Linked DNA regions of Homo sapiens. The protein of the gene in region 4 interacts with the protein of the main gene of each other region in a biochemical or structural test. Each region holds a gene or a part of one and is shown on either strand. Other genes may lie near its edges. The genes, in order: POLI, SIN3A, UBE2D1, RLIM, LMO4, ESR1 and SMAD7.

Evidence for each region.
Region 1: the proteins of RLIM (region 4) and POLI form a complex in vitro, tested with the Homo sapiens proteins (one large-scale study listed by BioGRID).
Region 2: the proteins of RLIM (region 4) and SIN3A form a complex in vitro, tested with the Homo sapiens proteins (one study listed by BioGRID).
Region 3: the proteins of RLIM (region 4) and UBE2D1 form a complex in vitro, tested with the Homo sapiens proteins (5 studies listed by BioGRID).
Region 5: of the proteins of RLIM (region 4) and LMO4, one has a biochemical effect on the other in vitro, tested with the Homo sapiens proteins (one study listed by BioGRID).
Region 6: the proteins of RLIM (region 4) and ESR1 form a complex in vitro, tested with the Homo sapiens proteins (one study listed by BioGRID).
Region 7: of the proteins of RLIM (region 4) and SMAD7, one has a biochemical effect on the other in vitro, tested with the Homo sapiens proteins (one study listed by BioGRID).

What each region holds. Positions count from the first base shown.
Region 1 is NC_000018.10:54,276,017-54,279,516, reverse strand, and holds part of POLI (DNA polymerase iota isoform a (long)), read right to left. Parts: intron 1,815-3,500; coding exon 1,662-1,814; intron 1-1,661. UniProt on the Homo sapiens protein: Error-prone DNA polymerase specifically involved in DNA repair. Plays an important role in translesion synthesis, where the normal high-fidelity DNA polymerases cannot proceed and DNA synthesis stalls. Favors Hoogsteen base-pairing in the active site.
Region 2 is NC_000015.10:75,410,191-75,413,690, reverse strand, and holds part of SIN3A (paired amphipathic helix protein Sin3a), read left to right. Parts: intron 1-645; coding exon 646-928; intron 929-1,947; coding exon 1,948-2,199; intron 2,200-3,404; coding exon 3,405-3,500. UniProt on the Homo sapiens protein: Acts as a transcriptional repressor. Corepressor for REST. Interacts with MXI1 to repress MYC responsive genes and antagonize MYC oncogenic activities. Also interacts with MXD1-MAX heterodimers to repress transcription by tethering SIN3A to DNA.
Region 3 is NC_000010.11:58,362,506-58,366,005, reverse strand, and holds part of UBE2D1 (ubiquitin-conjugating enzyme E2 D1), read right to left. Parts: intron 2,398-3,500; coding exon 2,320-2,397; intron 1,236-2,319; coding exon 1,130-1,235; intron 1-1,129.
Region 4 is NC_000023.11:74,594,125-74,597,624, forward strand, and holds part of RLIM (E3 ubiquitin-protein ligase RLIM), read right to left. Parts: intron 1,877-3,500; 5' UTR 1,854-1,876; coding exon 1,685-1,853; intron 266-1,684; coding exon 182-265; intron 1-181. UniProt on the Homo sapiens protein: E3 ubiquitin-protein ligase.
Region 5 is NC_000001.11:87,338,880-87,342,379, reverse strand, and holds part of LMO4 (LIM domain transcription factor LMO4), read right to left. Parts: intron 2,845-3,500; coding exon 2,748-2,844; intron 2,334-2,747; coding exon 2,178-2,333; intron 1-2,177. UniProt on the Homo sapiens protein: Transcription cofactor. Plays a role in establishing motor neuron identity, in concert with MNX1, acting, at least in part, to disrupt LDB1-LHX3 complexes thereby negatively modulating interneuron genes in motor neurons.
Region 6 is NC_000006.12:151,814,182-151,817,681, forward strand, and holds part of ESR1 (estrogen receptor), read left to right. Parts: intron 1-3,500.
Region 7 is NC_000018.10:48,944,466-48,947,965, reverse strand, and holds part of SMAD7 (mothers against decapentaplegic homolog 7), read left to right. Parts: intron 1-3,500. UniProt on the Homo sapiens protein: Antagonist of signaling by TGF-beta (transforming growth factor) type 1 receptor superfamily members; has been shown to inhibit TGF-beta (Transforming growth factor) and activin signaling by associating with their receptors thus preventing SMAD2 access.

The DNA.
Region 1 (3,500 bases), on a different chromosome or scaffold from region 4:
AATCCCAGCACTTTGGGAGGCCAAGGCAAGCGGATCATCTGAGATTAGGAGTTCAAGACCAGCCTGGCCAACATGGTGAAACCCCGTCTCTACTAAAAATAAAAAAATTAGCCGGGTGTAGTGGCACATGCCTGTAGTCCCAGCTAGTCGGGAGGCTGAAGCAGGAGAATTGCTTGAACCCAGGAGGTGGAGGTTGCAGTGAGCCGAGATCACATCACTGCACTCCGGCCTGGGCGACAGAGTGAGACTCTGTCTCAAAAAAAAAAAAAAAAAAAGAAAAGACATAATGGGTATTTTTTGTACTATTCTGTCAACTTTTCTGTAGGTTTACAAAAAATTTTAATAAAATCTGTATGAAAGAGGAAGAATTAATCAATAATTCCACATTTCCCTTTTTGGGATATAAAACCTAGCTCTCTATAATGTACTCTAACCAATAAAATCCAAGTTTGCCTTAAAAATTATACAGAAATATATTTGAAATATTCTTGCTAGTTAGCCCTTTTAAGTTACAAATGAGCACAAGTACAAAAGATACAGGAAAAGCTCCATGTATTCTAGAAACTGTGGTTCTACTGCTTTTCTTCTGTGGAGAACTATTCTGTAGACCGATGTCTAGTTCTCAAAAAAGAGGATAAGAGGAAATGCATGGGGAGGCTTAAGAGCAAAAGGGTCAGACAAGTCTTACACAACAGCAGAGTACCTTGTCTTGTATGTGGTATGATAGGGGAGTCACCAGCAGAGTCATAAGATGTCTGAAAGCCTAATCAGATATTCACTGGTGCTTACTGCAGCTTATTTTCAAATGTAAATATCACTGGAAACACCATCAGTCATTCATATCTCAATATATGAAGGAGACAAACCATTCTGCTTTCTTGCTAACTTTGACAAAGATTATTTGAACAGATTAAATAGGAGCTTGGAGAAGATTCTAGCACATGGCAGATAGCCCTGGACAACATTCCAAAAGTGCTAACTTGGGAATTCAGAGAGCAACATGAGGGTCTCAGGGGAATCGAAGTGAACATGTAAAACACACATCAAAGGGGAATCGAAGGGAACATGTAAAAGACACATCAAAGGCAAATCTAGCCTACCTGAAAACTCTGCTTAGAGATTGTTTTAGAATAATAAAAAATTATTCCAAAAAGCATATTAAGAAGCCAACTCTTACAACTTAAGAATGACCTACAGAGGTATGGCTTTTTGTTTCCTTAAGAGATGGGATCTTGCTCTGTTGCCTAGGCTGGACTCAAACTCCTGGGTTCAAGCAATCTTCTCAGCTCAGTCTCCCAAACAGCTGGGACTACAGGGGCGCTCCACTGTGCCCAGCTGGGTATGGCTTTCTAAAATGGGAACCAATGCACTGTGTCAGACGAAAACTCTGCACAGATGAATGCTCTGTGCAGATGAACAGGAACAATGCTCTGTGCAAATGAAAAGTGCACAGAGCATTGAGCTACATGTCATCAAAATCTTAACACTTATTATGGAATAGCAGCACCTAATTTTAGCTGTCCTAGACAGATTACTGACTAAATATAACTATACCTCCAACAAAAGTCATGAATCTTTCAGAATCACACAGCGAACTCACTGAACATTAAGAAATGTATGTACTTTTGGTTAGTAGGTAGAATGAATAAGAACCCACTCACACTGATTATTGTATACATGACCCGACACAGTCACCGCAGAAAGTTCATCACTTTGCAGCTGCTGTAGTCTCTTCTCAACCATTTCTGTTAGATCCACAAAATTTTCATCAAATCCAAGTCTCTCAACAACTGGACTAAATTCTTCCAGTAATTCTAAATTGAAATAATATTGGAGCACAAATGTAAATGAAGTTATAACTAGGATAAATTTAACTATCTAGTGCTTAAAAATTTATCAAATTTATTGTTAAAGGTTTTATATACATTCATAGTTCCATAATATCTTTAATAAAGCCCTCAGTTAATTGACGTTTTTTCTGTACCACATCTTGTATAAAGGCAATATTTTCAAAAAAGTCTAAAAATGACATTCCTAGGGCAGTTATTCATGGCAATATATCTAGCTCAATCTTCTACACCTATAATTTTTATATCTGTAGTACATTAAATATCAATGCTTATAGTAAATTGGTGACCTTGAAGAAATGTGTCAAAGAATAAACTATAGGCTGCTCAGGAAAGTTAAAAACAAGTAATAGTATATTTTAGCTATATTTTCTCCAAGAGTTTAAAAGAGGCAAAACAAAATAATATTTAAAATGTCCAATTATTACTGAATAAAACAGAAAGTCAGTCAACTTTCAAAATATACTATAACGTGGTATTTTTATTAGCCATTCCCAAGAATATTCCTTAGGACAGAGAGGCAGAGATGAACCACAACTTACAGGTATTCAAATGCCCAGCGTCTAGCACAATATCTAGTCCTCAAGTCAAATGTTTACTAGATTAAGCTGAACCAAAATTCAAAATAAATTCAAAAAAACTATCAATTTTCATATATTAACATTGAGACTAATAACTTTAAAATCATTGAGAAAGTTTTTCACTTCCCTCTGAATCACTTTCTACTGACACCAGCTGGATAAGAGAAAACAAATGCAAGTCTCTTAGTATACAAAAATGCATAGATTCTTAAGGTCATATAATCTGAAGCTCAGAAATAAAAGGACTATCTCATTCCACATAGATCATGTTTTTTCACAAACACCAAAGGTGCTTTTTTGTTTTGTTGATGTCAACATTGACAATGTGAGGGGAAACCAATAAAGGTAACAATGTGACATGGCAAACACCAAAAATCACTCCTGAGAAAACTATTACCTAGAGAAAACTATTACCTCCTTTCAGGACAGACTGACAATATGTCTAATCAAAGAAAATGATTGTTTTGCATTTCCTTCATCAATTTCGGCAATTTATTTTCAAAAGTATATACCTGATATGCAAAGTAACATGTAGAAAACAAGAGTTTATCAAAAGAATACTACATAAGAAAAATAAAGGATAAGGCTTTAAGCACTAAATAGAAAAGCAAGTTAAATACAGAATCATGCACGAAGCTGGTGGATCACTAAATATTGACTGATTTTAGGTCACAGGACAAATCCCTAATTATCCCGTCCCTGAAGGTTTTTGTTGTTGCTGTAGTTTTAATGAGACAGGGTCTCACTGTTGCCCAGGCTGGAGTGGAGTAGCACACCACAGCTCAGTACAGCCTTGACCTCCTGGGCCCAAGCAATCCTCCTACCTCGGCCTCTGGGACTGCAGGCACATGCTACCAGCTAACTTTTTTTTTTTTTAACTTTTGTAGAGACAGGGTCTTGCTATGTTATATTGCCCAGACTGACCTCAAATGATACCCCACCACAGCCTCCCAAAGTGTTGGGATTACAGGCATAAGCCACCATGCCCAGCCTCCATTCCTGAAGTTAACCTCTTTCTTGGTATCAACTTCATAAGCAAGATACATTTATTAAACATATAATTATATAGGGC
Region 2 (3,500 bases), on a different chromosome or scaffold from region 4:
GTGCCTGTAATCCCAGCTACTTGGGAGGCTGAGGCAGGAGAATTGCTTGAACCCAGGAGGCGGAGGCTGCAGTGTGCCGAGATTGTGCTACTGCACTCCAGCCTGGGCAACAGAATGAGACTCTGTCTCAAAAAAAAAAAAAACAAATTGTGGCCAAGTATCTTTGAGTCTAAAACTAAATGGCTTTGGAATTTCAGAGTTCGTGTGTTAATTTTAAAATGCGTAGATGATCTGTTTTCCTGTTTAGAGAAAACCTAGTAGAAAGTGAAATTTTGAGTGAGGTGGCTCATGCCTGTAATCCCAGCACTTTGGGAGGCCAAGGTGGGCGGATCACCTGAGGTCAGGAGTTCGAGACCAGCCTGGCCAACATGGTGAAACCCCACCTGTCCTAAAAATACAAAAATTAGCCGGGTATGGTGGCGCATGCCTGTAATCCCAGCTACTTGGGAGGCTGAGGCAGGAGAATCACTTGAACTCGGGAGGTGGAGGTTGCAGTGAGCCAAGACCCCAAGATTGCACCATTGCAGTCCAGCCTGGGCAACAGAGTGAGACTCCGTCTCAAAAGAAAAAAAAACATGAAATTTTTTCTTAACAGGGTGTTTGTTAAGCTTACAGTTTATCACTTTTCTTTTTGTTTTTTATCAGCATCGACACCCCAGGAGTGATTAGTCGTGTGTCCCAGCTATTCAAAGGCCACCCCGATCTGATAATGGGATTCAACACCTTCTTGCCCCCTGGCTACAAAATTGAGGTGCAAACCAATGACATGGTGAATGTGACAACTCCTGGCCAGGTTCATCAGATTCCCACCCATGGCATCCAGCCACAGCCTCAACCACCACCCCAACATCCTTCCCAGCCTTCAGCCCAGTCAGCCCCAGCTCCTGCCCAGCCAGCTCCTCAGCCCCCACCTGCCAAAGTCAGCAAGGTGAGCACTTGGAAAATATTGCATCAATATGAATGCATCCCTAGAGAGCACCTTCCTTTGATGTTTCCCCTTTATATAAGACTTAGATACTGAGAAACAAAGTTACAAAGATTTCGTCATAGAAAAATGCTGTATGAAAACTTCACTATGACATGGTTCACATTTACACATCACTTACTTAGGTATCTATTTAAATCAACACAGCAACAACTTTCAAGGTCTTTCTTTTTACAGTTTCTGCTTATAAAACCATGAACATCCCAACAGGTGGTGACTTTGTGTAGTAGTAGTTGACAGCACAGATAGAAACCATCGTCTTATCCTGGTCAAATTGTGCTGCTGCCCACATGGTTATTTTATGAAAGTTATTTCACTAACTAGATTATATCAAGCTAAGTAGAAGATCTAATGAATAGTGATAGTGATGGTGATGAAGATGGGGTGTTCTTGGTCTAGAACCACACTGTCTGACACAGTAGCCACTAGCCACATAGGACTATTTAAATTAAATTCAGTTTTTCATTTGCACTAGCTTTCAAGTGCTCAGTAACCTCATGTGGCTGGTGGCTATGTATAAGACAGTGCAAATAAAGGACATTTCCATCATCTCAGTTCTACAGGACAGAGTTGGCGTAGAAGACTTTTTTATGTGGAGCTACTGCAACAGTTGTCTTGTTGTTGACATCAAAAGGCTATGTAGAATGAGATTTTTTCTATGTGTACTTGTTGAGCTACTAAGCTAAAACATTGCATATGAAAAATTCTTCCCTGTAATTGGAGATGGCTCCAGTTTTAAGGTTTTATTTAGAAAATGTGAGACTGAAATATTTGTATCAGCATGTTTGAACCGCCTACAACTCCCACTGCTGCCCAGTATGATTTGTGTTGGACTAAAATGACCTGGCCTGAGTGAGTAAATAAAGGATATACGTTGACACCTTGTTTCTCTTTAGTTTGAACTTTCCTTGTATCAACTCATCTATGCATCTGAAGAGAATAAAGATTTCTTTTCTTTCTAGCCCTCCCAACTGCAAGCACATACTCCGGCCAGTCAGCAGACTCCCCCACTTCCACCGTATGCATCCCCACGTTCTCCGCCGGTCCAGCCTCACACACCAGTGACAATCTCGTTGGGAACGGCCCCATCCTTGCAGAACAATCAACCTGTGGAGTTTAATCATGCCATCAACTATGTTAATAAGATCAAGAACAGATTTCAGGGCCAACCAGACATCTACAAAGCATTCCTGGAGATTTTGCACACATATCAGGTAAGGAGTGCCCATTCAGCCTGTCTTAACCAGGTCACCCTCTTAGGGCATCTAGTCCAATAACAAGTAACCATTATTGTGTCCATTAATTCATACTGGAAATTAACCAGTTAGAAACTATCATGCATGTTTTTAAAGCCAGTTTGTTTGTTTGTTTGTTTTTCGAGACGGAGTCTTGCACTGTCACCCAGGCTGGAGTGTAGTGGCACGATCTCAGCTCACTGCAGTCTCCGCCTCCCGGGCTCAAGTGATACTCCTGCCTTAGCCTCCCTAGTAGCTGGGATTACAGGCTCCGCCCACCACGCCCAGCTAATTTTTTGTATTGTTAGTAGAAATGGGATTTCACTATGTTGGCTAGGCTGGTCTCGAACTCCTGACCTTGTGATCTGCCCACCTTGGCCTCCCAAAGTGCTGGGATTGCAGGCGTGAGCCACCGCCCCCATGCTATAAAGCCAGTTTTATTTGCCTGACTTGATTGCCCTGCAACATTCAGTCAGGATTTTTTTTTTTTTTTTTGAGACAGAGTTTTGCTCTTTTTGCCTAGGCTGGAGTGCAATAGTGCAGTGTCGGCTCACTGCAGCCTCTACCTCCCGGGTTCAAGTGATTTCTTGTATTTTTAGTAGAGACGGGGTTTCAACATGTTGGCCAGGCTGGTCTCAGGTGATCCACCCGCCATGGCCTCCCAAAGTGCTGGGATTGCAGGCATGAGCCACCGTGCCCGGCCTCAGTCAGGATTGTTAGTCACTGTCCCATGAAATGAAACTCAGTTTTATCTGGGACAGTTAGATGGTGATTTATATAGTCTAGTTAATGTACAGTAGGAGGAGGAGAAATTTCTAAGGTTTTGTCAGTTGGTAGTGGTCCCCTGGGCATTAATATTTATTGCCCTAGGCCGGGCATGGTGTCTCACGCCTGTAATCCCAGTACTTTGGGAGGCCGAGACAAGTGCACTCCAGCCTGAGCAACAAGAGTGAAACTCCGTCTCAAAAATATTTACTACCCTAGTTTTGAAAGGAATTGTCATCCACCATCTTCAACTTTTTTTTTTTCTCAACTTGAAAGTCTGTGGTCAGAACGGGTGCTAAGAACATAGACTTTCTTCTTACATGCAGCCTAAATAGATAACAGTGATTCCAGAAAGCGTGCAAAGATGAGTGACTCAAAACAGTAGCCCAAATGATCTCTTTTCATTTGCAATTCCTCAGAAAGAGCAGAGAAATGCCAAGGAAGCTGGAGGAAACTACACTCCAGCATTGACAGAGCAGGAGGTGTATGCCCAGGTTGCTCGTCTCTTTAAAAAC
Region 3 (3,500 bases), on a different chromosome or scaffold from region 4:
GATGAGCATCTTAGGTCAGAAAAACTATCGTTCATAAATAATTGAACTGAAAGAGCTATTATTTATCTAATATTTGAAAGAGCTACGGCTGTGGACCCTGCTTCCTATAAACCTTATTACTTTTAAAAACATGCTGTATATTCAAGTAGCAATTATTAAAAATAAAAAATGAGTACAGATTGCTTCCATAAATCCCTTCAAGAGAAACATTTTCTTCAATTTTATAAAAACGGAAAACTTGATGGTTGCTTCAGTGCAGCTACTTCTAACCTAAACAGTATTTTCCAACTGTCAGGTTCTCTTCTTTCAGAGAAACAAGACATAAATTAAGAGTGCTAGCACAGTAAGTAGCAGTGGCTAATGAAATAAAATGGCTTGAGATGCCTATGTATACACCTGATAATCCAGCAAAGAACAGCTATACCCCTGTAAAAGTTGAGAATCAGCACAGATCTTGTGTCAGTCACTATAATGATGCTACTGATTATTCGAAGTTTAGACTAACATGCTATATGTACTGCATTATCCTACAGTGTGAAATGTCTTTCATCTTAAATCATTTATCAATCAAATCTGGTATTTTATTCTTGGATGAAGTAAAACAGCTGTAAAGCTTTATTATTGTCAACATTTCCATTTAATGAATGGGACAACCAGTCCCAAAATCTTCCTTTTACTATCTCTTATTCTCTCTCTTCTTTTGCAGAGATGGGGTCTCCTATGTTGCCCAGGCCGGTCTCGAACTCGGGCTCAAGCAATCCTCCACTTCAGCCTTCCAAAGTGTTAGAATAACAGGCATGAGCCACAGTGCCCGGGCACTCTCTCTTTTTTAAAAGACAACACCCAAGCTAAAAGGATAAAATATCAATAGGTTTATCCCCAAATTTCTAGCTCTGATATTTTAAGGTTTTTTCTCATTTCATCATTTAGATTTGTCCATCCACACTCCCCTCAACCAAAGCTAACTGCCAAAAGCCATAGTAACATAAGAGCAAAGAGAGCAAAACAAAATCAAAACAGGAGAAAGCACAGTTGATTGTTGTTTTAAAACTTTAGTCCATAGGTAATTCTGCTGTATTTTTCCTGTCTCACTGTTATCAACTGTTTCAAACCTGATCAATGAAATTACCTTTTGATACAGTCAGAGCTGGTGACCATTGTGACCTCAGAATATCGAGACAAATACTTCCATTACTGTTTATGTTTGGATGGTAAATTTTTGTTGTGAAAGCAATCTAAACATAAAACAAAACAACAAAATATGACAATCACCTTTGAATCAACTATGAATAAAACAGAACCAATTTGCTCTAGGGTAAAATATCCTCAACTTTACATAACTTTAGAGGAGAAAAGTCATCAACACAAATCAAATAATTATCTACTTTGTGCTACACACAGTTCTAGCTAGTGAGAATGTGAACACAAACAAGTCAGCTTCCTTCTTTTGCCCTCAAAGGAACTGAAGAGTATTTTGGACAGTGTAATAAATAAGTCTCTAGTAGCCGGTATGACTGGTTGAGCAGCATCTAAAGTAATTAACCATGGCTTCCATCATATGTAGAAGTAATCCTTTTCTTAATTTGATTATTGGTGATACCTGGAAGTAACATTTGGATCTAAAACCAGGGTGCTGACGCTGTTTCAGGGCAAAGTTGAGGCGTCTCAGCTAAGAAATCCATTAAGAATCCTAATTTTCCACAAGAGTTGTCATACCATTTCATAAATACAATGTTAATCTGTTTTTAACTATTTAAAATAATTATATCCTGAGTGACAAAATCTGCCCACTTTTCCCCTCCCTGATATCCCCATCATTTGTTTCCTCTTTAGAGCAAATCTAAATCTAACATGTGTTTCTCTCTCCTACCATACTAAATTAAGGGACTGCTTCATATTTACTTTCGGATTCCCCAGTGTAGAAGAACACAGTAGGTACTCGGTGAATGTTTATTGAATACTTAAAAAAAAAAAACAGAGAAAGAATGATCAACTTTGTAAGGATAATCCCATGAATAGAAAAGTCTGACTCTTAATCATAAAAACGTCCCAAACTACACATATCCAATAAGAAGGAAAAGAAAAGCAAGGAATTTAATTTATAGCATGACACGTACTGACTTTTGTTTTATAGACTTAATACAGTATTTCAATAAGAAATCAGATTTTAGATTCAGTAGTTTTTACAAAACAGTTTGAAAATGCTAACCTCCCCACAGTCTTTGACATATCAAATGAGCTCTAGATAATCAAATGAGCTCTAGATAAAGAATAAAATCTCTTACATGGGAGTCACATCAATCATAAAAATAAAAATACCTTTGGTGGTTTAAAAGGATAATCTGTCGGAAAATGTACAGTGAGAAAGAAGACTCCACCTTGATATGCGCTATCAGGCTGAAATTACAAAAGATTTGCATCAGCATTTGATTACTATATTTATTTATAACAACAAAATTATTTCCCCCAAATATTATCAGTTTGAAAAAAATGCCATCATGTTTAAAATAATTTCATTAAATATTACCAATATGAAAAAAATGCAACCATTTTGTCATAAGTTCAAATCATTTACTTTGAGAACAGGTTTCTCTGCAGGTACGAAGGAGGATTTTCCAACAACTATGCCGACATCATAAAATTTAAAACAAAACAAAAACAGGACACACACAGTGCTGTGACTTGTCCAAACAAATCTGGTTATGAGTACAAATTGTTAAAGATCAGTATACACACGACTGCTGTGGGAAAAGATCATTTTCTGCAGCCGTAATCAGTATTTTTTTTGAAAAAGGGTTGAGGATAGTAAAACTTAAGTTCTGATGTTCACTTGATGACCAAGAATGGAGATGAACTGAAGAGGCTGTCGTGAAAAGAAAATGCTAAGGACCCTGCTACACAATTTATGTGCCAAATCTTCGTTTAGTAATTATTTATAAAATAATGTAGAGAACCCAAAAAAATCCAAAACAAAATTATATATTCATGCTACTATCAAATTGGGAATCAACTTTACTAGAGAAATTTAAATTTGACCATGTTTCTTTATAGCCATTAGAAAATATAACATTACAAGCAAAAAAATTTTAAAAAAAGAAAATGCTAGCAAACTATACCTACAATTCTATTTTAATTCTTTCATATTTAATTAAATATATCATGTTATATTAGCATTCTGGTAATAACACCAAGACTCATTACTTTCTCGTTAAGTTTCCACATATATGCTAGAGGATTTTCCTGTATAATAATTCTTACTATATATATTGTTTAAACAATTCTAGTTTATCAAAAATTGTAAGAAATATAGAAAATGAAGATAAATTACAATGACAGATATGGTCCAGAGTACTGTAAATATTTACATTACTAAAGTAAGGGAGTTATGAATAACATGATTATAACCATTTGTTACATGTGATTCACCTAAAAAATATTTGTGAAAGGCCATAATTCAAAAGGTAAGGGTGGGCCTTTAAATGAGAGTATTTTGAAGGTTC
Region 4 (3,500 bases):
AGGTAGAAAAAAAATGCTGACATTCTAAGTATCAAGAAAATGTCAGTTTTCTTTTTATGAGCAGTTACTTAGCACCAAATTAATTTGTGCCAAATCTGGATAATCTTTGGCTGACATTTACTATTACAAAGTTCCTATCATCCCATCGTCTATCCACCTCCCCACCAAAACCAAAACATACCTCTATTTTCATCTGAGTTTTGCGGTGGTGGGCCTTCTTTAATTTGCTGTAGTCGTCTCAGCAACTCTTCCTCAGTACTTTCACCTGAAATTTAACACCACAGGGCAAAGATGACATTAGGGGTATGACAATCAAATACTTTATCAGTGACTCACAGTAATCTGACACAAGATGATTAGAAAAAAAATCATATTTTTAAAAGAGAAAACTTTTTCAAACCAAAAAGAAAAACCAAGGAGTAGGTAGGTCCTGGGAAAAATTCACTTCTTTGGAAACATATTAAAAGCAATTTACAAAGTTCTTTTGCATATAACATCTAACTTTGGCTCACGCCTGTACTCCCAGCACTTTGGGAGGCCGAGGCGGGTGGATCACCGGAGGTCAGGAGTTCGAGACCAGCCTGGCCAACATGATGAAACCCCATCTCTACTAAAAATACAAAAATTAGCCAGACATGGTGGCAGGTGCCTGTAATCCCAGCTGCTTAGGAGACTGAGGCAGGAGAATCGCTTGAGCCCAGGAGGCAGAGGTTGCAGTGAGCAGAGACTGCACCACTGCACTCCAGCCTGGGCGAAAGTGCAAGACTCTGCTTAAAAAAAAAAAAAAAAAAAAAAAGGCAAAGGCAATTCTAAGCTGGGCGCACAGTGGTACCACATCTGTAGTGCCAGCTCGTTGGGAGACTCAGGCGGAAGAATCCCTTGAGTCCAGCCTGGGCAACATGAGACCCTGTCTCAAAAATAAATAAGTAAGTAATTTTTAAGAATTGCAGCTTTGAGAGGAGGATATTGTTATCTGCATTTTAAAATTAAGAAACAGACTGAGCGACAGACTGGCTTGCCAGGAGCCACACCAAACAGCAGGGCCAGAACTCCACCTAAAGCATTCTGATTCAAGCCTGGTATTGTTGGCTAAAAACACACTCCCTCTCTTAAAAGTCATGCTAAAACCTTACCTTTTAAAATCTAAGCAATTACTCAAAGGTAAGTAGAATTAAACAGAAATGAAGAGGAAGACAGATACTGACTTTTAACTAGGATCAAATGGGACTTAGTGGGGTAAAAGATAATTAAGCACAAACTTCTAATTGCTATGTTACCCAAGGCTAGCTCTGGAGGATTACAACTGGGACATATTCAGAAAATCAGAGATAACAGAATAAGTCTTTCCTAAAAACTAAGTTCCCATTAGCTATTCCACACTCGGATTCTTATCTAGTAAGTTAGATAAAGCTAACTAAGAAAAAAAAGATTTAGCTCCATTCTTTTCAATTCAGTTCGCTAAAAATTCATAATTCATAAGTTAAAAATCTCTCTGATATAGTGTAATTCCAAACATCAGTAAATATAATCAGGTAATAAATACAGCAATAAATGTCATTCCATATCCCCTATGTTAAATAATATTTCATAAGGGCTAAAGAAATGGATTTTTAAAACAGGTTCAAGCATTTTTTTTTAAACCAGCAACTTACACTTATAAATCCTTAAATATATGTAAGCATACCTGGGGTGCCTAGCAAATTGTTATCTCTCATAAGCCTATAATCTTCTTCACTCAGGTTATTTACAAATTGATAGAAAGCTTCTTCTCGATCCAATCGGTCCATCTGACTTCTGCGCTGTGCTGCAGACTGATCACCACTTCCTTTGTCATTGGAATCTGAGTTTTCCATATTGATGAACAAGTGGAAAATACCTGAAAAGAGAAAAGAGACTAATCTTGAAAATAAAGGTCACTATGTATTCTATACAAGTTTTAATTATGTGAAAATCCAGAATGTAGGTCTAGAGATGGATTTTCAGACCTCAAATGAAATTTCCTAACAAAAACTCCTGAAAAGCACTGTTATATTAAGAGTAGGTCAAGGGTTGGCAAACTACAGCCCTTGAACCAGACAGGGTTGGCGAACTAAAGCCCTTGGGCCAAATCCAGCCATACTGTGGTATTTTTTGTTTTTTGAGATGGAGTCTCGCTCTCTCAACCAGGCTAGAGTGTAGTGGTGCGATCTCAGCTCACTGCAACCTCCACCTCCTGGGTTCAAGTGATTCTCTGCCTCAGCCTCCCGAAGTAGCTGGGACGACAGGCACCTGCCACCACGCCCAGCTAATTTTTGTATTTTTAGTAGAGACAGGGTTTCACCATGTTGGCCCAATCTGGTCTCAACCTCCTGAGCTCAAGTGACCTGCCCTCCTCAGCCTCCCAAAGTGCTGGGATTACAGGCATGAGCCACCGCACCCAGCCTCGTGCTGCATATTTTTATTCTCCTTGCAACCTAAGAATGGTTTTTAGAGACTATCTTGTGACATATGAAAATGCAATGAAATTCACATTTTAGTGTTCATAAAGTTTTATTGGAACGCAGCCATACACATTCATTTACATGTTATCTATGGCTGCTTCTGTGCTATAATGGCAGAGTTGAGCAGTTGTGACAGACTGTATGTGGCACTCCCATTGCTTTGGACTGCTGCTCTGTGCACTCTTAAGTTGCAGTGATGTAGCTATAATGACAGCATTTCAAGTGCCTTCACACTGGACATTAAAAAAAACTGAGTATACACTCATCATCTCAAACAAAGAGAAAAGTGGACTCTGAATGTCACGCTTAAAGGTGCAGCAGAGGATGGGTTTTTCAAAAATCAGATTAGATGGCAAAGAATGCATGATTATGCAAAAAATACTATATACTAAATACAATATATACTGACACTATTAAACACTAGTGACAATATTCCCAATTCACAGGAAAACTACAGTTCAAAAAGTTAGAAAATTTAAAGTGAAATCTCATCACAAAATATTTCTTCACAAAAATAAAAATGAGGCTTCAATCAAAGTAAATTTCCCAGGGGCTCATTTATTGGCTAAACGAGGAAAGCTGTTTATTGATGGTGAGTTAGTGAAATTATGTTTGAGTGCAGAAGCTGAAGAAATGTGTCCAGAGAAAATAAACATAATATTGGACTTTTGGTAAGTATAGTGGTCCAAAAAGCTGGGAATATTGAAAAGCAATGTCACTAATCAACTGAAAAATAAGGTAAATGATGGAGTGGTTTTCTCTTTGGCTCTTGATTTGTTGACAAATGTAACTGATACTACTTAAGTTATTGTTTATTCAAAGAGCCAAGTGTTGATTATTCAAGGAGTTTGAACTGCAGAAGTAGCCCCTATGTGTAGTCTACATGAAATAATCATAGGTGAGAATATTTTCAAAGTTGAGAAAACTAATTCAGCAAAACCTGAAGCAGAATCTCATAATAAGATATGTTACTACTGGAATGGTAAAAATATATATGGAATGGAAAAAGACCTAGTTGGA
Region 5 (3,500 bases), on a different chromosome or scaffold from region 4:
AACAGGTAAACCTGGTTTTTCTGCAGTTCTCCTCCCTAACACCTCTAAATTTATGCCATCTTATACTATAAAAGATGGTATGAAATCCTGCTCATATTTCTTAGGTGTGCTTTATACTTGGTCCCTACCTAACACTGCTATTGCCTGTATTCAGTGCTTCACAATCTAGCAACATTTTCCATCTCATCTCTACATCCTTTCATTCTCACCATGCATGCTGGTGAACTGCAACAATCATTTTTTTGTATAGTACTTTGCTAAGTCAGAGAAAGAAATGGTATAAAACCAGCAACAAAGTGAAGCTCTAACTCGGGGAAAAATTAAGCTTTTACATCAGAAGGAGTGGAGAGAAGGTCTACCATTTTATTTCTAGCATATTTTTTCTTTTTTGCTACCAAGTGTAACTACAAACAGCTTTACCTCTATTCTGAATAGGTATCTCCAAATATTTATGTTGCTCATTCATTGTTCTCAACTCTGCCCTGCAGATTCACTTCATTAGAATCCAAATCACAAAAATCTTTAAGCATTTATATGTCTTGGCACTCCTTGAAGAAGCTTGAAATACCTCATCAGCAGTGACTGGTTAGTTTGCAATTAAAAAGTTCAACTTTTATTCTTAAAATGGTTATTCTATGTAGCTCCCCATATTAGTAAATTAAAGTGCACATAATGTCATGTAATTAACACTAAGAAACAGAACATACATTTAAAATTACCTCATAAACTTGAGCAAGGGAAAAGGGCAAATATAAGCATCAAAATATGGCAGCATAATTTTAATGGTTAAAAGTTTTCAAATATTTGTCAAACCCCCACCTCCACCACCGCACTAAGAAAATGCATTACAGAAGACAAAAAAGTCTATTTTTTTCCCCGAGATTTTTGAAGCTTGCTAAATTCCTATTTGCAGATAAATGTTGTTTTTTTTGTGATCCTTACAACAGACATTAATGAAGTTCCTATTGTAAATCCATAAAGAATTACCAAGTGAAGTGTGCACTTTTTGTTTCAATGCAATAACTCAGTGCTGTGTGATTGCCTGGGTTAATGATGAAAAAGTCAAACATACTATCAGAGCTGATGGAAAAATCTATCACCAATCTGAAATTAAAATTCATCTGTGGTCAATAAGATTTAATATCCATGCAAGTGGCGCTGTAAAGAGTAAATGAATCAATGTCATCAATACATAATCAGTATGAAATATGATGTGAATAAAATTATGCACACGAGTCATACATTTCACTCTTTTCTGGGCCGGTGTGGAATGAACAGTCTCTTAACTGAAGGTTGACAGTAATTGTTACAAATTAGGCACAGCAGTTATCAAAATGCACTCACTTGCATAGCTATAGGACTTATTAAGGAGATTAAAATAGATCTAAAACTATCCAGTACTGGGGGTGCTGGACAACTGTTGATCACCAATTTTCCCTCTGGAATATCTTCTAATACTACATGATTTGTATACTTGTATAATTTCCTAATTTTTAATTCTGGTACAAGGATTTTCAAGTTGTGGATCAAGAATCAAGATACATAATTTCTAATGGCACTATTAATGGCACTAAGCGGGTTAGCAAGAACAAGAACTTGGTTTTAAAAGCCATAACTTATTCAAATGTTATGGTACCGCCAATGAACAAAAATGCCCTCTTATGAAGTTACAGAATGTTTTGTAAAATTACTCTTCTAAAAAGTAAATGAATTGTAAATTGGGTTTGGAAGGCAGGTGTCCAGATTGCTATTCCTAACGCAGAAATCATTCTTTCATAACAAAGATCTTTATTCTCTTTTCCTACCATAAATGTTCTAATTTTTCTTCCACAATAACCTATCACATCATGTTTCTGAATTTCAAAATTGTCAAATGGAATAAATAACCAGTTATATGGAAGCTTTACATTTTGTTTGCTTTTGCATGTGATAATCTTATGTTCAACGTGAGTGAAGCTACAGATATAACAAAGTCAGGATTTTTTTTTTAACTAGAAAGGATTCACAATTTAATCAGCTATCCTACTTCTGAACACTCTATGTACAACTAGTAATCTACATTTCTTTAAAAGGGCATGCAAAAATACAACCACCCAAGAAAACTCTCTTGCTAGGTTAAGAGGTTGAACCTTCCAACTTGCTCTAATAAAGCTTATTAGTAATTGCTGGGTATTCACCTTCTGGTCTGGCAGTAGTGGATTGCTCTGAAGTGAATTCAAATGGCCATTGATGAGAGCTGTAGGTCTATCATGTTCACAAAATAAACTGCCATTGATGTAGTGAAACCGATCTCCCGGGACCAGGCGATTCCGGCAGGTAGAGCATGTAAAACACTGAAAGGGAAAAACAAACCCACTGAAAACAAGGTAAAAATTAAGTCTTTTTTTGGTCACAAGTTTATAACCTGTTATTAAGCAGGTATCTGTCAAGTACAGAGACACTTAGGGTTTAGCGTTTTTTCTTCCTTTGACAGATCTCCAGAAAACAGTAAGCCAAATTGCTATCAACTGGACCAGGCTAAATGGGGACAAATCCAAATACATGTGTACTTCTGTCTGTGGCATAGGGGAAGCGTGGTCTGTGCATGTGGATGTGTAACCATCACTGCCATGCTACAATTTCAATCATTCCTTCAAGTGTCTGCAGCTTGAGAAAACAGTTCATACCAAGGAGAAATGCTTTGCCCCCATGTAGGTAGGAAAGGTATGATTTTTTTTTTAAAAAAAAAAGAGAGATGCAAATACTACCTTAAGATGATACACATTGCCTTGCGCCCTCATGACGAGTTCACTCGCAGGAATCGACTGTCCGCAAGCGCTGCAAGCACCGCTATTTCCAAATAACCTGAAACAAAGAATAACGGTTGACACCAGTGAATAATCCTAAACCAAAGAAAAAGAAAGAAAAACACCCCCAGACTCTGGGCATCCCTTTGGAATGCATTTGACAGGCTGAATTCTTAGGCTCAAGCCTCAGATTTTCTGAGTGATTTACATAATCTGGGAAAAATCCTTTTTGTGGGACAACAAACTTCTGCCTACCGCAGAGGATGCCCCAGATTTAATCAAAATATTGACTTACACCTCTAGCAAATACAATTCTGTTCTACACACATTTTATCAGATTACTAGGTTCATCATAAAAAAAAAAAAGATACAATTCATGACTGGAGTTTAAATGCATTGTGTCCTTGAAATTATATGAAGAACTCTTTTGTACTTTAATCATATCTTCAGATATGAGTCATCAAAAGGGTTAAGAGGATTTGATTGTATATCTAAGAAGACATCATGCTCAGTGTATTGAAACTCCCGTAAACCTCCATCAGTGCAGACTTTCCATTAGAAACTCTCTGCTATCCAGGTTGATATATAATGTGTATGGGTTAACCTTTTCAATCATGGTGTCAACACTTAAGATTTGCCTCTGCTCATCTCTTTCATCCTAACCTTCTCTCTCTCTTGATAATGAAATGCTTGCTCCAACTTCCCTCTATCTGC
Region 6 (3,500 bases), on a different chromosome or scaffold from region 4:
ATTTCTTTTATGGCCCTGAAAGCAAAAGACAATGTTCTCTTTTAGTTTCCTGCAATTAAATGATGTTAGAAATAGTCATCTTCACATTGGCGTACTTCCTCTTTCTTCTGTAGGTCTTTTAGAATTTTGAGTCCATTCTCATATTTTCTTGTTTCATTTGCTTTATTTTCTAATACATAGAAGTTTAAACTCCCTTTAAAGAGTTTTTGGCCTCTTTTACCCTATTAAGCTTTCTTTTTTCTTTTCTGTTTTAGTTGTTCCATCTGTGTATTCTCAGATATTTTTCTTTCACCTTTTCTGGTTTATTTCTTTATTGACCTGTCTCATCTGTTATTTTAATGAAATTTGGAACAGGGCTAAACAGAGTTCCTACCTCAGCCAGTATAAGAATATACCGTAATAACTCAGAGTGGTATTAACTAGATTAAAAGTTTCAAAAAGTGATGTTTTTCTTGTCTCTGAGGATAGAAACTTCAACAAAATAAAGAAGAAATTTTCAATTAGTAGAATTTCTTTGAAAGTTTGTTCATTCATTCATTTGGCTACCTTATTCCAAATTGAGTCATTCATTGAGGGCTTAGACTATATAAAGTGTGGTTTTGTTTTCCCAGCAGTTCATGCAACAGCATTGCACCTAGCAGCTGGGAAGTCTTATAGCATGAATAGGTGAGATTCTAATACCAGAATCTCCTGCATGTGTAAACTAACAGTGTAGTCTTGACTGTTGTCTCCCAGTAAACTTGGTTTCAGGAGTTTTAGATCCATGTGAACGTGTACAAGGCATTTTTGCTAACTGTAACTTCCCACTTAATCAACAAAAACAAAAACACTCATTTCTGAACATTCAGTGCATTCATGATTAATCTTAATTACACCACAAAGGTATTTTTCAATGGTGATTTTGCGGGAGTGGGGTAACAGTTTCGAAAGCAACATTGTCAGAAACATAGTTGATTTTAAAGGTTCTTTCTGGTGACTTTGACTTCTGCTTTTTTAGAAGACCTTACACAGAGTTGTATTTATTTCTCCTGGAATATTTCAAGCAATTCAGAGTGAAAGGGTATACATTCCAATTTGCGTATGAGATAAAATTTAGTTACATTGAGAAGCTATTTTCTTTAGTTACAGGGAAAAAATTGTAGGGCTTTTGGAAGCCTCTTTGATTTCTAATAGGAGGAATCCCTGAGCACTGGTCCAAACAGAAATCATCTCTTCTTCATTGCTGTATTTCCCTCAAGCTCTTAGCAAAGTGCATGGCACGTGAAAGCCCGGAGAAGCTGTTGGTTGAAAGAATGGATGGTGGTGGGCAGGAAGCATCAGGGACATGGTTTGCTTCAGTCTATTGGCTGGGAGAAAGGCCATTTAGGAAGGGATCCTTAGATGCCACTGGAAGAATGTGGGAAGTTTGTGAATCTCTCTTTCTCAGGAACAAAAGTAGAAAAAGGACTCCACACAGCATTCCAAGTACAGTCGGCCCTCATTATTCATGGATTCTGTATTTGCAAATTCGCTGACTTACTGACGTTTATTTGTAACCTTCGAGTCAACACTCACGGTGCTTTCTCAGTCCTTTGCAGACGTGTGGAATGGCAAAAAAATTTGAGTTATATGACGTATATGTTCCCAGCTGAGGCTGAGCAAGGCTCACTTCTCCTTGCAGCCCTCAGACTATAAACAAGTGTCCCTCTTGCTATCTACTTCGTGTTATGATTTTTGCATTTTCATAATCCCTGTTGATGATTTTGCTGTTTAAAATGGCCCCTAAGCATGGTCCTGAAGTACTGTCTAGGGATTCTAAGACAAGGCTCTGACGTGTCTTAAGAGAAAATACGTGTTTGATAAGCTTTATTCAGGCATGAGTTACAATGCTGTTGGCCATGAGTTCAATGATGGTGAATCAACAGGATATATTAAATACAGTGTTTTTGAACAGAAAAACATATAAAACAAGGTTATGTATTAATGAGTTGGCAAAAATGCTGTGACCAAAGGCTCCCAGGAACCTACCCTATTTTCCCCTCAATGCAATGGTTCAGTATTTGCTAATTCAGTGTTTGAGGTGACTTTATAGAACATGAGTACCATGAATAATGAGAATCGATTCTGTATAATAGAGTGATGAAAGCACAGGTCTGGGAGCCAGCAGCTATATTTCTATTCTGGCGTGACTCCTGTGTAGTTGTCATCACTGGCAAATTGCTTAACTGTGTGCCTCAGTTTCCTAATCTGTAAAAGCTACATCGTTTGGATGATGTGAGGATTAAACAAATTCATAGATGTCTAGGGCTTATAACATTCCTGGCACATAACAAGTCATTATTTTTTATTACTACTTCGGAAGGGAATTGAGTACTATACCCTGAAGAAGGTGAGTATGGGAATTCTCTACGGGTCTGGAATGTCCCTATATTTGTTTATTTTGCCTTCAAGTGACTAACTTTAATACCCTATTGTGATTAGAAGTTAAACTTCTGCAACCAAAAGGAAGCAGGAAGCTAGTATTTCTTGAAGTGCTTATTACATGCCAGGTACTGTGCTACAAAAACAAAACAAAACAACTGTAAAAAAAACTTCAAATTTGGCTGCGTGCAGCTGCTCATGCCTGTCATCCCAGCACTTTGAGGAACTGAAGGGAGGATTGCTTGAGTCCAGGAGTTCCAGACCAGCCTGGGCAACACAGTGAGACCCTGTCTCTACAAAAAAACAAAAACAAAAACAAAGGCACTCCAAATCAGTAAAAATTAATCAATCAATAAAAAGAGTGAGGGGCATTAAGTATTGTGGACTGAAGCAATCCCAGAGAGGGAATTAATTGAAGCTGAGGTAAGCAGCTTATGGAGAAGCTATGATGTACAGAGGGCAAGGAAGGAATTTTTCTGTAATTTGGAAAAATGGGAACTGTGAGAAAGAAGGAGTTGGAAGCTCATACTTAGGGAGCATCTACAAGGACGTCTTTTTCACGTTGGTTGGAATATCCAAATCAAGGATTATTTCAGAATCACCCAGATGATTAAAAAACTACTGAGATCCAGGTTGTATTTCAGCAGTTCTGACAATTGCTCTGGGTCGAAGCTTGAATCAGTAGTTAAGAAAAACAACAAACAAAACAAATTTTGGGGCTTTTCTCACTGATTTACAGTTAAAGCTCATTTACTCTTCCTATGACTTTAGATGGAGGATATTTCCAAGTCTTCAGGATGGAGACATGGAGGGAAGTGAGACTAGTGATGTGCCTCAAGGTTTTGCTGTTGTTCTAACCATGAGGAGCACTATTCAAACCCAGGTCTGCTAGATTTCCAAGTCTTCATTTCCTTGGGCCTCTTGGATTTCAGAAGCAGAGGGTAAAAGGAGTGCTGGGGAGAAAGATCACAGTAGCTTTCAATTCTACTCCTCAGCTTTCCAAAATAAGTTTCAAGACTGGCCGTTGCATTTGATATGGAATAAATACAAAGAAGGTAGATTGAAGGGTATGAAGATGCAGATTTTTGATACCAGATATG
Region 7 (3,500 bases), on a different chromosome or scaffold from region 4:
AAGACTTTGGTCTGGAGTAGACACTAGAACTTTTCAGAAGTATAGGCAACAGCCAGTAAAAGGGGGGGGGGGGTAGGTTCCTCCTGCTCCAGTCACCTGCAAGTCAGTCCTCTCCCGGGGTTTTCTCAGTATTCGCCATAGGGACTATCAAAGTTTGAAGCATAGCTCTGCCTGTCTGCTGCTTTGTCACTGGCTGGCATGAAGCCATGGCAGAAGCCCATTTGAGACTGGCACCAGCCCTGTTGTGGTTGTCTGCATTCAACTTCTGGCCGGCAGCAGCACAGGGGTCCATCCTCTGGACATCACAGTGCTGGGGACAGGGTCAGCAAAATGAACTTGGGGGTGACAACAAGGACAAACCCAAATTCCTGGAGCTCCCTCTTACAGTAGGAGATAGATCTGTTTGCTAAAAGTACAGGTTGTATGTAACCTTGGTTTTTGTGCCTGTATACTGGTGCCTGAAAAAAACATTAATACTTGGGACATTTTTATTTTGCCAAGGTTCTGGGAGAAGGAAAAGTGAAGGGTTGGGCACCATTTAGCTCCTGGAATTCTGCAAGTCCTTCCGCCTCCTGCGTTTTGGCTGTTGGGCCTTTCCCCCCACTAATTAAAAGTTTTGCTGGGGCGTTGTCATAAATTAAATACTTTAATGAACGTGTAACCGAAGCCCATACTCTGCAGCCAGTCCTCCTGGGACTCTACCAGCTCCCTCAAGTTGGGAAGGCGTTCCTGCTTGCCTGGTGCCGGTCTAATAAGTGGCCCGCAAAGCATGTGATATTTTGCTTTCGATTTACAAAACACCAGATAAATGGTTATTAATAAGGAGATACCCAGCTCTCTGTATTTGTAACAAACGTTAACTGGAATTACCAAGCTCTGTTTTCCTAAAGACTGTAACTTGACTGGGTTTTGGCTTAAAGAATCAAGAATTCTTTTATGAAGTTCATTTTCCAAGGGGCCACCTCTGACCTGTTTTTTTTGTCCTTCCATATTCTTCAAATTTGGAGGTTTTCCTTAAAAGAGAGAGAACAGTGACCTTAGCCCCAGGGATAAAGACCAGCAGGGGTAAATGTTCCCAGAAACCTCCAAAAACCATAGAAAAGAAAGGCCATGTTCCCTTGGGTTTCCTGCAGAGACACTGGGATAAATCTGTTCTCAGGATTTAAGCAGTCATTCTGCCAGGCCAGGGCCTCATTTTCGGTGAGTGGAGTGATATATTTATTCATTAGCAAGTGTTGACATTAGGTAGCAAAATGTGTGTAAACAGAGAAGCCACAAAGACAGGAATGTGCCATTTCCAAGGGGGAGAAAAGTTCTCCAGATCAGCCAATAGGAAGTGATTAACCTGCCAATCGGAAACTAAGACAGCTGGTTACTCACCCAAAACGTTTTGTTGAAAATAGAACAAAAAAAGAAATGAGAAAAGGCGCTGCTGTGTAAGAATTTAGCATCAGTAATAGACAAAGCCCCCACGAAGGGAATTGTCCTGCCACATTGGAGGACAGCCAGGTCTGGAGCTGGAGCACACCCCCCCCGCCCCCCTCACAGGTCTGGGGCTGGTTTTGCCAGCTGCTGTGGCCGGGGGCATTGAGGTCAGACCACAGATGGGCGCTGACCCAGGTCTTCATCCCCATTTTGCGTATGGGAGAATGTTTGGCCCGGGAATCTACATGGACCATTTACATTCTTCAGTTTCTATGTCCCTTAGGTTGAATTTTTGGTCTTGGGTTACTAGATGAAACAGGCACAAAGTTTTACAGTGGACAACTGTTAAAATCTTAACCAGTTGCACAACTAAAGGAATACATCCTGTGAAGTCTCCATCTTAGGAAAAGGTGGTGGGAATGGGGCTGGGGCCTGGTACCCTGCAGCCTTTGGAGACACAGAGGGCTCAAAGCTAGGAACTCCATTTTGCTATAATTTAAGCCACTCCACTCAGCATCTGGGAGGCCTGGACTTTAGACACCTAGGTACTGTGTGGTCCAACCAGGAGAGCCTTCTTTGAAAGAGTGTTCACATGACTGAACCTAGGGGAGGCCAGTTGTGACTTGTGGCTGTCAGAAGTCAGAAAGACACCCCCACCTCCACATCCCACAAGAAGTCAGAATTTGCTGTTTAAAGCTGGATCTCGGGGATAGCTGTGTGGGCTCTGCTTCCCGTGTTTCATTGTATCTGATGGTCTGAAAGGTTTGAGGAATGGCTGGCCTTGGGGGGTTGCTGGGTGAGCTCTTGAGGGACCCAGGTGGCCAGTATCCATGGGCAGATCCAGCCTGCAAATCCAGATCGGAAGTCTGGTGTCTTGACCTGAGATCTGGCACTGCGTTTCTCTCTTAACCGAGGTCCCTCTTAACTTTTCTAGGCCTCTTTTAAAATCAGCATGATGAAAGAGATTAGGTCATTCATTCATTTATTCATTCATTGGTTCAGTCATTCATTTTACAGGCATGATGATGTGCCTACCTAGAAATTTGAGGATTCCGATGCAGTGCTGTGTTCTTTTTTTTTCCGAGACAGTCTCATTCTGTGCCCAGGCTGGAGTGCAGTGGCCCGATCTCGGCTCACTGCAAGCTCCACCTCCTGGGTTCACACCATTGTCCTGCCTCAGCCTCCCGAGCAGCTGGGACTACAGGTGCCCGTCACCATGCCCAGCTAATTTTTTGTATTTTTAGTAGAGACGGGGTTTCACCGAGTTAGCCAGGATGGTCTCGATCTCCTGACCTCGTGTGATCTGCCCACCTCTGCTTCCCAAAGTGCTGGGATTACAGGCGTGAGCCACTGCACCTGGCAGTGCTGTGTTCTTTTATAACCAGGGTTCATTTGAGTTCTGGGTTGGTTGAACTACCTGGGGCAGAGCTGGGACCCTTGGGGTACAGTGGTGAGTAGGGGCTCCTCTGTCTTTAACAGTACTTAGGAAGCTCAGAACGCAGTTGCTGAGACTATCGTGGGACTCCCAGCTCCTTTACCTTGTACTCATTCTCAATAGTTCGCTCCTTGGCTGCTCCCCAGGGTTGGGTTTTCAAAGACTCTGTTGGAGCTGCTCGGAGAAAGGAATGAGTCTTTTTCTCTCGCAGAACCTAGTGCTTACCAAGTGCTTGATAACACTTAGTGTTGCGTGAGTCAGGAGTGGCCTAGAGCTTCTGTCTGCCAGCCAGCCTGGGCTCTGGGGAACAGGCGACACAGGCCTAAGGTGAGACCCTGACTTCAGAGATCTGTCTATGCGGAGCTTTTCTGTGGGTGAGAGATGGAGGTATGGCTCCTTTAACCTTGAGGCCAGTCTGGATGGCCTGGCCACCTCCAGGAAAGAGGGTAGGGACTCCATAGCCTGCCTGGGGAGTGAGAGCCATGGGATAGGGCTGGACTCTTGGGAATAGCCCAGCTCACTGGGTGGCCCTTTGAGCTAGTCAGTGACGCCTCAGTTTACCTGGCTGCCTATGGAACAGGTATACTTTGCTTCTTCACAGGGGTGGTAGGGAGGCTTAATTAACGTTTGTAAATCCCTC